Regions from separate parts of the Homo sapiens genome. Here region 2 is linked to region 1. A link means that fine-mapping ties the variant in region 1 to the expression of a gene that starts in the linked region. Tissue or cell type: atrial appendage. Region 1 holds a variant in brackets; the other region holds the start of a gene. All regions are shown on one strand. Distances are from middle to middle.

Evidence for each region. PIP is the estimated chance that this variant, and not a neighbour inherited with it, causes the effect.
Region 2: NQO2 starts here. The variant in region 1 is fine-mapped to the expression of NQO2 in atrial appendage (GTEx, PIP 0.96).

The regions. Positions count from the first base shown.
Region 1 is chr6:3,448,548-3,456,651 of GRCh38, forward strand. SLC22A23 (solute carrier family 22 member 23) reads right to left here. Exons shown (of 10, transcript NM_015482.2): 1 at 7,359-8,104. The coding sequence starts at 8,012. It overlaps LOC643327 (a long non-coding RNA gene), which reads left to right and starts at 7,156. Exons shown (of 2, transcript NR_147844.1): 1 at 7,156-7,704. The variant A/T (reference allele first, on the strand shown) is at 4,704.
Region 2 is chr6:2,995,993-3,004,096 of GRCh38, forward strand. NQO2 (N-ribosyldihydronicotinamide:quinone dehydrogenase 2) reads left to right here and starts at 3,902. Exons shown (of 7, transcript NM_000904.6): 1 at 3,902-4,093. It overlaps NQO2-AS1 (NQO2 antisense RNA 1), which reads right to left and starts at 3,683. Exons shown (of 2, transcript NR_186367.1): 1 at 3,399-3,683. RefSeq lists a silencer at 3,651-3,900.

The sequences.
Region 1 (8,104 bases):
CAGTGTTGTGATCTCCGCTCACTGCAAGCTCCGCCTCCCGAGTTCACGCCATTCTCCTGCCTCAGCCTCCCGAGTAGCTGGGACTACAGGCGCCCGCCACCACGCCCTCCTAATTTTTTTGTATGTTTAGTAGAGACGGGGTTTCACCACGTTGGCCAGGATGGTCTTGAACTCCTGACCTCGTGATCCGCCCACCTCGGCCTCCCAAAGTGCTGGGATTACAGGCGTGAGCAACCGCGCCCAGCCCCCACCATGTTTTTAAATGACACCAACTTTCGACTCAATCCTATCTTGGACTAAAGGCCAAAGTAAAGGCACCTGCAGAAAATGTTGCTACAGAGAGGCAGAGGGAGACGGAGAGGGAGAGGGAGAGATCTGCAGATGGTTCAGAACAGGAAGATGAAGAAGGAAAGGGAGACCTGTGACCTGGGAAGACAGCTATCTCCCAAACGGAGGTGGAAAGGCTGCTTAACAGCTGGCTAGCCTCTAATCCTTACATTAATAAGGGCCACTGCCAAACTAAATGTTTAGGACGTTGTTACAAGCAAGTCAACGTCTGCATGAAATGCTGGTTATATCCTCTGACCTTTCTAGCAATTTATCCTAATAGCTCAGAAAAGCAAAACAGGTATCTCCAACCCCAAAATAAAGAAGTTATAAGATCATAAAAATGTTAGAAGAAAACATAGGATTTCCCCCCAGTCTTCCAGGAATCTTCCAAGCCTTAAAGCTAACATAAGAAATCATAAAAAAGAAGATTAATTCATACAACTCTAACCAAACCATACGTTTCTACATAACAAAAATATCATGTACAAAATTTAAAAAACCAAACAGCAAACTCGAGGAAAATGGTTACAAGTCATCCAGAAGGGTTAATTTACATCATACATAAAGTGTACCTATAAATACATAAGAAAATAATGCTTCTCACAGCATATACACACACATAAAGGCAAAGGAAATGAAGAGACTGTTCAAAGAACAGGAAATATGGATGGCTCAAAAACTTTCAAAAAGATGTTTAACTTCCTTCATAACAAGAGAAATGCAAGTCACAACCACCACCAAATACAATTTTTTGCACATCAAACTAGAAAATATGTAAAGATTTGATAATCCCCTGGGTCAGGGAGGGTGTAGGGAACAGAACCACACATATTATTAGTATAATTGTGCATAGCTAAGATTTCTACAGAAAACACTCTGACAGTATTAACATAAAAATGCAGCCTACTTTCACCCTCCCACTTCTAAAAATTTCTTACACGTGTGCAAATGTCTGTGCATGCCAAGATTTCGTGATATATTGTGAATATAACAGCAAAGACTGGAGACAAACTTAATGCTTCCTCGGTAAGTGATTAGTTAAATAAATGGCAGTCCAGTCTGACAATGGAATACTATGCAGACATAAAAAAGAATGAGTATCTCTATGTACTGATGTATTCATCTCCAGCATAAGTGAAAAAACAGTGTTTCGGATACGCTAGTGTTTCTGAGACAAAATATGTAAATGAAAGTAGAACATTTCTGGAAGGGGATGTGAGAAACTGGTAACCATGGTTGCTTCTGAAGAGGGAAACTGGGGGCAGAGACAGAAAGAAATGTTACTTTTATGCTATGCTTTCTGTACAATGTACATGTATTACCTACTATAGTCAATTTTTAAAAATAGATATGCATGAAGATATCCACTGTTGTTGCATATACTAGACAAAAGCCACCACTGGGATGACCTCATGGTAGTCAGTTCAGTATTTTATTATTTTTTTTTGAGACGGAGTCTCGCTCTGTTGCTCAGGCTGGAGTGCAGTGGAGTGATCTCGGCTCACCGCAACCTCCGCCTCCCAGGTTCAAGCGATTCTCCTACCTCAGCCTCCCGAGTAGCTGGGAATACAGACGTAAACCACCATGCCCGGCTAATTTTTGTATTTTTAGTAGAGATGGGGTTTCACTATGTTGGCCAGGCTGGTCTGGAACTCCTGACCTCGTGATCCGCCCGCCTCGGCCTCCCAAAGTGCTGGCATTACAGGCGTGAGCCACTGTGCCCGGCCGTCAGTTCGGTATTAGGAAAAGAATTTAAGAACTTTTAATAAATCAGCAAAAATATCATGCATTTAAAATGTTTCGGAAGAAATGGACAAATTCTTTTGATGAGGTGTCAAGAAAATAGTAGATTCCATTAAATAAACACTTTGATTAGAACTGTGAAAACAGGTTTGTGTGTAAGGCATTTCAAAAGTGAAAACTAGTCATCATATGATAACTAGGATCATGGAATTGTGGGCTATTTTTAAAAGTGTTACTGTTGCAATGATATAATTATTTCTAGTCTTAATTAAATTGTACTTAAAGTCACTTTAAATAACTTCTACTCTTTAGCCCTAGAAAAAGGATACAAATTACTTCCCAGGATATTTAAGCAACTTTCAGGATAAAGGTCAGAAATCTTTGCAAATTCATGAGAACAGAGGAAATGCTACCAGAAGATTGGAGCTGGACAAACATCCTACATTTCAAATACAGAAAAAATTGGGGCAAGTTCAGCTGGCATTGATTATTGGCAAAAGTTCTAGAGATTACTCAAGAAAGTGCTGAGTATTAGAAACCAACAGATTCAGTCAGAACAATGCAGGATACACTGTGCAAATTATTATTATTTTTTGAGACAGGGTCTCACTCTGTCGCCCGGACTGGAGTGCAGTGGCGCGATCTCGCTCACTGCAACCTCTCACTCCCAGGCTTGAGGGACTCTCCTGCCTCAGCCTCCCTAGTAGCTGGGATTAGAGGCGTGCGCCACCACGCCCAGCTAATTTTTCTATTTTTAGTAGAGATGAGGGCTCACCATGTTGGCCAGGCTGGTCTCAAACTCCTAATCTCAAATGATCCATCCACCTAGGCCTCCCAAAGTGCTGGGATTACAGGCGTGAGCCACTGCACCCAGCCTGTGCAAATCATTAAGCGCAATATTTGCAAGTCCATGGAGTCTTTGTTTTTTTGTTTTGTTTTGTTTTGTTTTAACTTTGTTGACTAAGATCTCAGAAGTATCTGAGAACTTGGGCTGCGCAGGGAATGCTGGTGTGGGAGAAGCAAGCCAACTGAGCTGAGCTGCGGCCCTGTTTGTCCTTAGCTCTCCAAAACTTGCTGTCTATGTCACTTGGAAGGAATTTGATTCTTTTCTGCAAGGCACTGACAATACCTTACAACAGAGCTGGGAGATAAAATGCAGAGCTTGTGAAAGTCATCAGAAAGTTGAACACAGATGGTCCCCGGCTTAAAACGGTTCAACTTGATGATTTTTTGACTTGATGATGGTGTGAACACGATACACATTCAGTAGAAACTGTATCGATAAGGGCTGCTTTATTCACCAGAAGTGAAAAACACGATGGTTGTGTGAGTATCTGAAGTACACAACCATTCTCTTTTTCACTTTCAGTACAGTATTCCGTAAGTCACACGAGATATTCAACACATTATAAAACAGACTTTGTGTGAGATGATTCTGCCCAACTGTGGGCTAATGTGAGTGTTCTCAGCACATCTGAGGTAGGCTGGGCTAAGCCAGCATATTCAGTAGGTTAGGTGTATTAAATGTATTTTCCACTTTCAATATTTCCAACTGATGAGGGGTTTATCTGGACACAAGACACAACACCATCCGAAGCAGAGGAGCATCTGTACCTGGTTCTTGTACAGAACACATGGCACACTCAACTGTGTGTTCACTGACTTAAAATCCATGATTGGCACCTGCTATTAGTCTGGCTGGTGGCTCACACCTATAATCCTAACACTTTGGGAGGCCGAGGCAGAAGGACAGCTTGAGGCCAGGAGTTCAACACCAGCCTGGGCAATATAGCAAGACCCCCCTCTCTACAAAAAAATAAAAATAAAAATGAGCCAGGTGTGGTGGTGCATGCCTGTAGTCCCAGCTACTCAGGAGGCTGAGGCAGAAAGATCACTTAAGCCTGGGAGGTGGAGGCTTCAGAGAGCTGTGATATCGTACCACTGGACTCCAGCCTGGGCAACAGAGCCAGACGCTGTCTAAAAAAAAAAAAAAAAAAAAAAAAAAAAAAAAAAAAAAAGCCTAGAGACTGACCTTGGGTTATTATTCTTAATCAAAGAAAATAATGTATATGAAATGTTTTATAAACTATAAAGGGCTGCACAAAAGAAACTGACATTAATGTTGTCATTATTTTGAAGGCATTGCAGATTCTGCGATGCAAATTCTGGTACCAATAACAAATACAAAGGCCAAGGCAAAAAATAAAAAGATCCTAACGGGAGAGATCTAGAAACTCAAAATTGTTAAGATGAAACCTAAGTCATGGTCATGCTACATGAGCCTAAAACTGAGAAAATCCTGATTTCATCCACCACTCCCAGGAAAACAACATTGGAGGGGTTGGTGATCATGGTCTGGAAGCAGAAGTATGTCATGTCTAGTTTAAGCCTAATGAATCAACTCTAGGTTGCAGTAGGGGAAGGACAGTATCCATCAATCCCCTCTTTGGGTTAGAACACACAGGGCCTGGCTGGGTTGGATTCTGGGTACCATGCTTAAGAGACACACATGCCAACCAGAGCGATAAGTATGGCAAATTTTTGCACGTATGGAATAGCTTAAGTACTGTAGATTTTTCAGCCAGGAAAGAAGCTATTGAAAACACATTTTATTTAAGAAATAATTTTTT[A/T]AAAAAAATTATTCTGAGGAGCAAGTGGCACAAATAGGCATGAGTTAACCTGAGTTTTATTTACCAAAGTGTGCCTTCCTGCAAGGAAAAGCAACTACGGGATGGACTAGCTGCCTTGTTAACAAAGCACTCCCTTTCCATCGATGGAAGTGTTCAAACTAGGATGGATAACTTCATGTTAGAGATATCATGCAGAAGGCGAGAGAGGCTGGTCAGCCCTAAGATCCCTTTTAACTACAATAACCTGGGATTCTAACTGGCTTGACAGTTTCACGTGTGTAGGTAGGTGCTAGGATACCAGCAGCCACATGAGAAAGAGGTCCAGAACTGTGCCTGGTAGCTCTTCTGTCTTCCTCTCCCTTTCTGACACCTAGGGACAGAATGGTGCATATATTGTAGGGCACACACACGCTAAAGGATACATACTAAATACAGGATACATGCTGAAGACAGCATGAGGCTTATTTGCAAGAGAAAGATCATGGAACAGAGCAGGAAAGAGGCACAAAAGGCAGCTTCTCAAACCCTGAGCTTTTATCCACTGAAAGAAGGCAAAGGCTCCTTCCACTTTCTGCTTCTACTTGGGATGTGGGCTGACAAGCACCTGACCCCTGGAACTCCTGCACTCACCATAGTGTACATCCCACATTAGTGCATCTGATACAGTATTCAACATACACAGCAGCACAGGAAAAGTCTGCCTTCCAACATGCCAAAATGTGCTTGAAAAGCTCTTTGAAGCATTTGTTATGTGCTTGAAACACACAGAACACTGGGAAGGCAGTCCTTTATTTAGATCTTTTTTGTCTGTGAAAATCAATATGTCCTTTCTAGGCTTTACTGTATAAGAAAATGTGTGTCTAATTATTGTTCCCAGGTTTCCCCTCTCAGTCTGGCCCAGTAACTGCAACGTGTCATCAAGCATCACCCAAAACATGCCACACACATGAGGGCTGTCTGTGACCCTCTCGAATGCTAATTTAGAAAAACTGCCCAGCTCTCCAATATGCCTCCATAGTCTGCTTTTAAGAACTATTTTTGTTCTCTCCTCCCACCGTGCATGGCTGAGTGTGAATAGCTGTTTCCTGGGTCCTCACTGCCAAGGTAATGGCACTCTATCCCATCTCATCACTTTCAAGTTCACCTCTACTTTGACCCCAGGACACAGCGCTCTTCACACATACTCACTTTGATCCATTATTCTCCCTCTGCTCTAGAAAGACACTTGAAATACTTAACAATGTTGCCAAATCCTCAGTCTGTCAGACATACACAGTGATTTAAATAGTCATTGTTCTTAATTTTTCTTTGCTGCTAAACCAACAAAGAAATATTGCCCTCCGTGAAGGGAAAACAGTCACAGAAACACCTTTAGAAAGCAGGGGGTAGGAGGTGGGTGGGATCAAGGTGAACCCAGCTAGAAGGACCTTCCCCATTACCTTGCAGGGCAGCAGGGGCAGCTCAGTCAGACAGTTCCCACAGGACAGAGCATTTCTGGCCAGGTTGGTACAAGATTAAAACAATGATTATGATGATGTAAGAGTTTATCTTACACATCCATGAGCTACAACTGTTAACCAATGCACACGGGGGGAGGAGGTTACATGCACATTGACTATTTAAAACTGTCCAATTTCATACATTTCGACAAAGCATTTAAAACTCTGCCAGAACAGCCCAGAATGGGTAGCGGGTGGGGTGGAGGAGAGTCTGTATTTACTTTAAAATGTGAATTAATTAGTTTAGACACAAGGAGCAAAACTACAAATGTCTTGATATCTCTTATATGTTAAGAATAAAATTACAGCTGTCTAGGGGCATTGAGTGTCCACCATTGCCCACTCTGTGTTTAGGCCTTCACACTTGTCTCACAACTCCCTTCTGCTACATTTCACACCACGCAATACCTCTGCAAGGGAGCTTTAGCTACAGGACTCAGAGGACAAGGTGCATGTTTCAGCTAAAGCACACCCCCGTTCTCAGTGCCTCAGCCCAAAGCAGCTGCTGTGTAAGAGCGGTGACGGCCGGGGAACACCCAAATGACATATTCTCCGCGTCCTTCCTATACTGTAGTGATGTTTACTGAAGTGCTGAGAAAACATGGGAGGAGACACTGGGGTAGCAAAGCCTAAAGTCAGATATCTTTGGGGAGGACTAAGCATCGGCTGCGGGTTGGGGATTTGCAGGAGTCTTTGCTTCTCTGGCTCTCCAGTTCTTTAGTAGGCTTTACCTGTGTCAAAATCAAGTGCGAGATGGAAGACTATTGCTTTGTGGGAGACCCAGGGACAACTAGCCGGGCAGAACAGGGCTGTGGTCCCGACTCCCCCAGCAGACCTTGAACGACGCCAGTCCGACTCCTCCAGAGGGGGCTGGTGACAGGTCAGCTGCCTCGCCCCGAGGGTGGGGGAAGGGCGCGCTTTCCATCCGCGTACTGGGACAGGAGTTTGGGTGCAAACTAGTAAAGGCTATGGTGCTCCCTTTACACCCAAGTAAAGGCATGTGGTTTGGGGGACGGAAGGAGATTAAGCCAATGCGGAATGCCCTACACACACTCTAGCACCACCACTTTGGGGACTTCGGTTCTCCCGCTGGCTCGGGCTTGGACCTCGGTCTGCAGGGAGAGGGTTGGAGGGACTGGGCGGCTGCGGCCCTTACCTTGCTGACCACGTTCTGGACGAGGCCGGCGCGGATGCCGTAGTCCCATGCGCGGCAGTCACAGTTGGAGGCGTTGTCCCCCTTGTCCGGAGGGGATGGCAGGGGTGGTGTGTCGCCTCCGTCCGCGCCGCTGCTGTTGCTCCGGTTGCCCGCAGCCTCCCAGGGGGCAGTGGCGAAGGGGGTGGTGGGGAGGCTGGTCCAGTTGCCCATGTCCCCGCCCCGGCCTGTGGTGGTGACCCCTGCCAGCTCGGTGCCTTTGCCGGCCCCGCGGCACCAGAAGTTGGGCTGGTCCAGGAGGAACGAGTCCGAGAACTGGCTGAAGCCGATGAACAGCGCCGGGATCCAGGTGAGCAGCACGAGGGTCTTCTGATAGCCCCCGCCCAGGCCCCCGAGGAAGGGCAGCACCGACCCGTCATAGTCCAGCAACAAGAGGCTCGGGGCCGCAGCCGCGGAGCAGCAGCTCGGGTGCGGGCCGCCTCCAGGATGCAGTGGGGGCAGCGGCTGGATCTCCGCGCCGCCGCCGGGGCCCGCGCGTCCCCCGAGGGGCGCCGAGGCCGCCGCGTCCCCGGGCGGCAGGGAGCCGTTCTCCTCGGCCGGGGCCGGCTGCCGCCCAGGCCCGCCGCCCGCCGCCTCGCGCCGCCGGTCTATGGCCATGGCCCGGGCCCGCGGCTCCCGCAGAGGCGCATAGAGCGCGGCGGAGGCTCCGCGGGCGCCCCGGGCACAGCGCGCCGGGCCAGGCGCCTGCA
Region 2 (8,104 bases), 450 kb before region 1:
TATGTCTGATAACATCCAGAATATGTAAAGAACACCTACAACTCGGCCGGGTGCGGTGGCTCACGCCTGTAATCCCAGCACTTTGGGAGGCCGACGTGGGCGGATCACCTAAGGTCGGGAGTTTGAGACCAGGCTGACCAACATGGAGAAACCCTGTCTCTACTAAAAATATAAAATTAGCCAGGCGTGGTGGCGTATTCCCGTAATCCCAGCTACTCGGGAGGCTGAGGCATAAGAATCACTTGAACCCAGGAGGCGGAGGTTGCGGTGAGCCGAGATCTCGCCATTGCACTCCAGCCTGGGCAACAAGAGCAAAACTCCGTCTCAAAAAACAAACAAAAAACCTACAACTCAACAACAAATAGACAAACAACCCAATTAAATGGTCAACAAAGGACTTGAATAGACATTTCTCCAAGGAAGGTATACAAATGGCCAGTAAGCACATGAAAAGATGCTCAAAGTCATTAGTCCTTAGGGAAATGCAAATCAAAACCACAATGAGATACCACTTCGCACTTGCTAGGATGGCTATAATTTAGAGGGAAAAAAAAGAAACATAACAAATGTGCGTGAGAATGTAGAGAAGTTGGAACCTGTGTACATTGTTGGTGAAAATGTGAAATGGTGTAGACGCTGTGGAAAACAGTTTGGCTGTTCCTCAGAAAGCTAAACATAGAATGACCATAGAATTGTAATACCGACAATTCCACTCCAAGGTGTATAACCAAAATTATTGAACACAGGGACTGAAACAGATACTTGTACACCAATAATCATTGCAATATTATTCACAATAGTCAAACAACAGATGAGTGGATAAACAATGCCTGGTACCCTTCCTTCCTTCCTTCCTTCCTTCCTTCCTTCCTTCCTTCCTTCCTTCCTTCCTTCCTTCCTTTCTTTTTCTTTCTCTCTTTCTTCTTTCTTTTCTTTCTGTCAGTCTTGCTCTTGTTGCCCAGGCTTGAGTGCAATGACACAATCTCAGCTCACCGCCACCTCTGCCTCCTGGGTTCAAGTGATTCTCCTGCCTCAGCCTCCCGAGTAGCTGGGACTACAGGTGCACACCACCATGCCCAGCTAATTTTTGTGTTTTTAGTAGAGATGGGGTTTCCCCACGTTGGCCAGGCGGTATACACATTTTTCTATTATTCGGCCATAAAAAGGAATGAAGTTCTGATGCATACTACAACATGGATGAAACTCAGCAACAAGGTTTTTGAGGAAAAAAAGCTTAGTGAAAAGGCCACATCTTGTAGGATTCCACTTATATGAAATACATGCAATAGACAAATTCATGGAGACAGAAAGTAGATTAGAGGCTACCAGGAGTGGAAGGAGGGGAGAATGGGGATTTATTATCCAATGAGTGCAGTGTTTCTATTTGTTTTTGTTTTTGTTTGAGACAGGGTCTCGCTCTGTCATCCAGGCTGGAGTGCAGTGCCACGATCTCAGCTCACTGCAGCCTCCGCCTCCTGGGTTCAAGCAATTCTCCTGCCTCAGCCTCTGAGTAGCTGGGATTACAGGTGTACACCACCTGGCAAATTTTTGTAGAGATGGGGTTTCGCCATGTTGGCCAGGCTGGTCTCAAACTTTTGACCTCAGGTGATCTGCATGCCTCTGCCTCCCAAAGTGCTGGGATTACAGGCGTGATCTATGGCCCCTGACCCAAGTGTTTCTATTTGGGATGATGAAAACGTTTTGAAAATAAATAGTTGTAATGGTTGCACAGCACTCTAAAGGTAATTTATGCCACTGAATTGTACACTTAAAATGGTGAAAATAGAAAATTTCATGTTATACAGATTTTGCTACCCAAAAAACAAAACAAAAAATCCAAAACCTTTATGTTATTATGAAGAAGCAGTTTTCCAAAGGAATAGGGATGCTGGTAGCAGAAGGGAAAGAAATCTCATTAAATAAAAACAAAAGCAATGACCTCTTCAGGAGGTGGCTCAGCTAGTTTAGCTTTACCTTAGCACCATGATGGTTCATTTTATTCAGAAATAGAAACATGGGGCGTTGGGGAGAAGAGGAGATGTGTACCTGCCTCACCTGCCTCCCTGCCCAGAATGCCGACTCCGACTCTTGCTTTCCACTAAGGCTGGGGATTAAATGAAAAGTGAGAATCTGGAAACCCCCAGAGATGATGTTTGTCGTTGGAGCTGATTTTATCTCATTTTAGTAGCATGACCTCCTCCTCAAACTCAGGATGCAATTATGGTCAATCTCATTAGTGTGCAGTAATTGCTCAGCCCCAATACCAGATTAGCAGGAAGTTCTGTTATTTTCCTTTTGAGGATGGGCTCCTACTGAACTGTCCTGGAATCTACCACCATTCAGGTTACAAAAGACCCAGGGAACTAGGCCAGTCCAGCTCCCAACCCCAAGCAGGGAGCAACTTGCTCAGTCCACGTTGTGATAGCTCCTCGCTGCCACAAGGTGGTGATGTTGCATCACACACGCGCATGATGGGCGCGCAGGCGCCAATGCTCCCAGGACCTGCTGTTCCATTCCTAAATGAAAGTTGTTCCCAGGATCTGGACTCACAAGACAAGGCAGCCTATTCCCTGCTGGGGAGCTCAGGGGCAAGAGGGCATCTCGGAGGGAGGGCACATTCTCACCTCTGAAGACAAGGAGAACATCATCAGCACATAGACCAATCCCAGCAGTGCACCTTAGGATGGGGAGGGCCACTGTGAGTTACAGCAAAATGAACGAATGAATGAACCAATAAATGTCTGAGAGGGAAAGTCCCAACGACCCTCAGGAGGTACAATCAAGAGTTGCAGTTATTTTCGTTAGGAACGTTCTAAACACAGGGGAAACCTTCCTTCCTTCTGCTCTATTGTTGGAGTGGGGCCATCCCGGGACACCAGAAATCAAGGAATTGAGTTTGGAGAAGGGACTTGGGGAGGTCACAGTGGCAGGTGACTGCCAAATGAGGTGGCAGAAGCCAGCAAGCGCTGGAAAAAGTCGGCCCAAACTGTTCACCAGCACCGCCCCCCATAACTCCCCACCGGCTCTGGTTTCAAGACTTTCCGTTTTCTAGGTATTTCCTTGGCCTTAAACCATTTTCCTTTAAACGAACTTTTTCTGTGAAGCCATCCGGTTTCCCCCGATAGTGGCATCTCACAAAGGACAATCCAGTATCCCAACAGCGTGTTGCGTTCCGCGGGACGCAGATTTCCTTCACAGGCACCCCCCGGGTTGCGTTTTTATAGCCACACCCACCCGCCCCCCTATCTCCTGGGCACTGCTAATGAGTCCTGCATTTCTCTCCTTTGGTCTTTGGATAAATGAACCATCCGTGCGTGACCTTTGCGAGGGCATCTTGCATAATACCAGTACACCAGCGGCGCCGTCGGTGAGTGACCTTTGGGACTGGTTTCTCTCACCAGCGTAACTCCCCGGGAGATCCGAGCAAGCTGATGAGTGTATCAGTGGCTCATTCTTTCTGTTGCACCACGGACCCTCATTCTGTAACCGGGATACCAGCCAGAGATGGGGAGCGGGAGGCGCAGGGCAGGGGCGTCCCTCCTCTCAGCACAGCCTCCCCGCGCTGGATTTCTATCAATCCAGTTTCCACCTGCCTGGAAGTCAGCAGGGTCCTCCCCAGTCCCAGATCGCCGGGCGAGGCCCCAGATGGACCTCAGGGGCGGGGAGTGGGCGGAGCTTAGGGGCCGAGGCGAGGTGTGGGTGGGGCGGGACGCCGCTGTGGAGGCGGGGCCTGGGCGCGGACGGGCGCGGAGCGAGGCACCGCACCGCCGGGGCGGGGAGTGGGCGGGGCTCGGGGGCGGGGCGGGGTGTGGGCGGGGCTCACGGGCGGGGCGGGTGAGTGGGCGGGGCCTCGGCGTGGTAGGCGCGCTGCGTAAAGAGGCCTGCAGTCCCGCGGCGCGGGGCAGGTTCCGGGCTGCTTAGGTTGGCACCGGTCCGTGGTCCCCGGGGGCGCAGTCGCAGCGCTCCCGCCCTCCAGGCGTCAGCGAGTGCGCGGTCCAGTGCGGCCGGAACCTGGCGCAACTCCTAGAGCGGTCCTTGGGGAGACGCGGGTCCCAGTCCTGCGGCTCCTACTGGGGAGTGCGCTGGTCGGAAGGTGAGTGATCCCCTGTCGGGGACCGGGGGACTTGGGAAGGACAGTTCCCGGACTGGACGGCCAGAACGCTCTCAGGGATTTCAGCTGGCCGGCCATATGGCCCTGTGGGTCGTCGCGCCCGGGCCAGGGACCATTCTGTACATAGGATCGTGCTTGGCTCTCACGGAACGCGCCCACACGCAGGGTCCCGGTGTCGAATCGTCTGGTGGAATCTGCCCTCAACCCTATGGAGCGGGTGCTGGTATCATAGTCATATTACAAGTAGGAATCAGCGGGCCCAAGGTCAGTCTGTAAAGGGGGTACCGGGGTTTAGGCCCGTGCGCTGCCCAGCGCTGCCCTGAAGGCGCGGCTGAACCACTGGTTTGCGCTGCCTTTGTCAAGGACATTGTGGCACTGTGGAAAAAATGAAAAATCAGCTTCTCTAACCTATAATCTCTCTGGGAAAAAAAAAAATCAGCTTTTTTTTTTTTCCCCGAGACGGAGTCTCACTCTGTCGCCCAGGCTGGAGTGCAGTGGCACGATTTCGGCTCACTGCAACCTCCGCCTCCCGGGTTCAAGCAATTCTCCTGCCTCAGCCTCCCGAGTACCTGGGATTATAGGGGCGTGCCACCACGCCTGGCTAATTTTTTGTATGTTTAGTAGAGACGGGTTTCATGTTGGTCAGGCTGGTCTCAAACTCCTGACCTCGTGATCCGCCCGCCTGGGCCTCCCAAAGTGCTGGGATTGCAGGCGTGAGCCACTGCTCCCGGCCCTCTTTTTCTTTTTTCTTTTTTTTTTAGAAGAGTCTCACTCTGTTGCCCAGGCTGGAGTGCAGTGGGGCAATCTCAGCTCACTGCAACCTCTGCCTTCCAGGTTCAAGCGATTCTCCCCCCTCAGCCCCTTGAGTAGCTGGGATTACAGGCGCCTGCCACCATGCCCGGCTAATTTTTGTATTTTTAGTACAGGTGGGAGTTTCACCATATTGGCCAGGCTGGTCTTGAACTCATTCTTCTTCCTTTCTTTTTCTTTTTTTTTTTTTTTTGAGATGGAGTTTCACTCTTATTGCCCAAGCTGGAGTGCAATGGCACAATCTCAGCTCACTGCAACCTCTGCCTCCCGGGTTCAAGCTATTCTCCTGCCTCAGTCTCCCGAGTAGCTGGGATTACAGGTGCGTGCCACTACACCCAGCTAATTTTTGGTATTTTTAGTAGAAATGGAGTTTCACCATATTAGTCAGGCTGGTCTCAAACTCCTGACCTCAGGTGATCCGCCTGCCTCGGCCTCCCAGAGTGCTGGGATTAATGAACCACTGCGCCCGGCCAAAAATCAGCTTCTTTAACCTTTAATCTCTGAAAAAATAAATCAGTTTAACCTTTAATCTCCGAAGATCACAGCCAAAGAAATACATGAAAAGGAACAAGTATTAAATAATATATACTTCTAGCTGTGCTGTTTATAGTTTTGGGAAAAAAATGGAAATAACCTAAGGTCCCAGAAATAGGAAAATGGGCACAAAAGGGTATGCAGGCAATGGTTTAGCTGCCGCATGAATACACACTGAATACACTGTGAGATGTTGTCTGTTAGAATGCCCAGCACGGGGACTGTCCACATGGAAAGAGGCACAGGAAAAAAAGTGAAAACATTATAAAATAACTTCTTAAAATTAAATAATGTACACGTCAAAAATATCAGAGCCCACTTGACCTGGTATATACAGTTTAATAACCACATGGCTCTTTTTTCCTGTAGGCCTGGGTAGGTGCATAGTTTCTAAAAAGGGAGAGAACTGTCACTGCTGTGGATGGGGTGCCAAGGGAAGTGCCTGGGGTCAAGTGAACAGTGACACAACTGCAAGTCAAGAGCCTGTGTTGGAGTCTTTCCCCACTATTTCAAATAGTATAGAAAATAGAGCTGAGTCACTCAAATAGAGCTGAGTTAGTCACTCAGCTCTTGGACCTCAGATTCTTATTCTTAACCGCTAGGGGGATGGAGACAGAAGTCACAAACTCACATGCCACCAGCCATATGATGTAAACATGTAAACTGGGCCAAGGAATACAAAAGGGAGTGGTGAGCTGGGGACACTGAAGAATGGATGCCCTGTCTAGAGGAGTGAAAATGAAGCATTTCATACAAACAACATGATTTCGGGCAATCACTTTGGGAATCAGGATAAGGTGTTCCCCCAGTCTGCAGAAACACTGGCAACATTTACAAAGGTAAATCATTTCATATCACTCTATTTTCTTTTTCTTTTTTGAGACAGAGTCTTGCTCTGTTGCCCAGGCTGGAGTGCAATGGCACAATCTTGACTCACTGCAACCTCCACCTCCCAGGTTCAAGTGATTCTCCTGCCTCAGCCTCCCAAGTAGCTGGGACTACAGGCACATGCCACCATACCCGGATAATTTTTGTATTTTTTAGTAGAGATGGTGTTTTGCCACATTGACCAGGCTGGTTTCAAACTCCTGACCTCAGGTGATCCCCCCACCTCGGCCCCCCAAAATGCTGGGATTACAGGTGTGAGCCACCACAACTGGCGATCATTCCATATTACTCTCCAGCTTAAGAGGCTCCAAGGGCTTTCTGTCAGGCTTAGAATAAAATCCTCACCCCTACCCTAGGAGGGGTCAGGTCAGACCCCTCCCACCTCCCTGACTGCATCTACCACCATCCACTCTTTTTTTTTTTGAACCACAGTTCAGCCAAACAGGCTTTCTTTTTTTTCTTTTACTTTCTCTTTTTTCTTGAAACAGAGCCTAACTCTGTCACCCAGTCTGGAGTGGAGCAATCCTCTAATCTCAGCCCCCTGAGTAGCTGGGATTACAGGCATGCACCACCACACCTGGCTAATTTTTAAAAATCTTTGGTAGAGATGGGATCTCACTATGTTGCCCGGGCTGGTCTCAAATTCCTAGGCTCAAGTGATCTCCTGCCTCAGCCTCTCAAAGTGCTGGGCCTTCTGCTTCCCTGGGCTTTGCCAGGCCTCCCTATGCATTGTGATAGCCAAAGTTTGCTTTCTACAAAGTCACCTCCAGGCAGTGACTGTCCACCAGGGCACTGTAGAGCCTCCCAGCTAATGATGAAGTCACTCACTCTCCTCTCTTTTTCCTTTAAGATAATCCCTTTCCAGACCCGCCATTTTGGCTCACCCTGTAAGTTACAGCCCCACTTCTCACTGCCAAGTGTGGGTGTCACTGCTGGCTCAGGGAGCATGGATCCTGTAAACTTGCCTCATCGGGAGGCTTTGAGGAGTGACCCCCAGGAACTAGACAAGTAACTTGTTCTTCACAATCACTGCCCTCCCAAGAACATCCAGGATTTCAGCCTCAGTGCTAAGACAACCATGTCTCTCCCTGACACATGCTCGCTGCTGAGAATTCTAGGAAAAGCAGAGGGCTGTGCAGGCGCCCCTGCCCCTAGGCTAGGAGAGCTGGCAAATGCCTGGAGACCCAAAGGCCTCATCCTCAGGGCGGCCAACTCTTCTGTTTTAGTGATATACAGACTATCTTTTATTGTGATTTATAGTGCAACTTACCGGTTCAAACAATACTACCTGTATTCATAAACTTTCTTTTTCCTTTCCTTCCTCACTGCCCAGCTTTAGGTTCATTCTTGTAAGTGTTGCTGGTGTCAGAATAGGAACCTCCCTGCGCTTTGAAGGGATGAATGTGACCTCTCCCACATTCTCCGGTGCTGTGATGTACCTTAAACACAGCAAGGTACTTGGACACAAAGCCTGTGCCTGGAGCACTTTCAGACAGACAGTGCATGGCCCTCGCTACAGACTCAGTGCCATTGTAGATGTTTCTGCATGGAAAATACATAAACACAAATATCTGCAGTTGCCAATCCACCACCATCTTGCAGCCCCAAGAGAGCCCCGGGAATCCAGGTTCCTTTGGTATTTCTGCTCCCTGCCCTTGGTGCATAGCCTCCATCCCCAGGACGACAAGAAGGCTGACTGAGCCCTAACATCATCCCACAGTCCAGCTGGGAAGAGAGCCAGCGACAAAGCCAGAGGGAGCT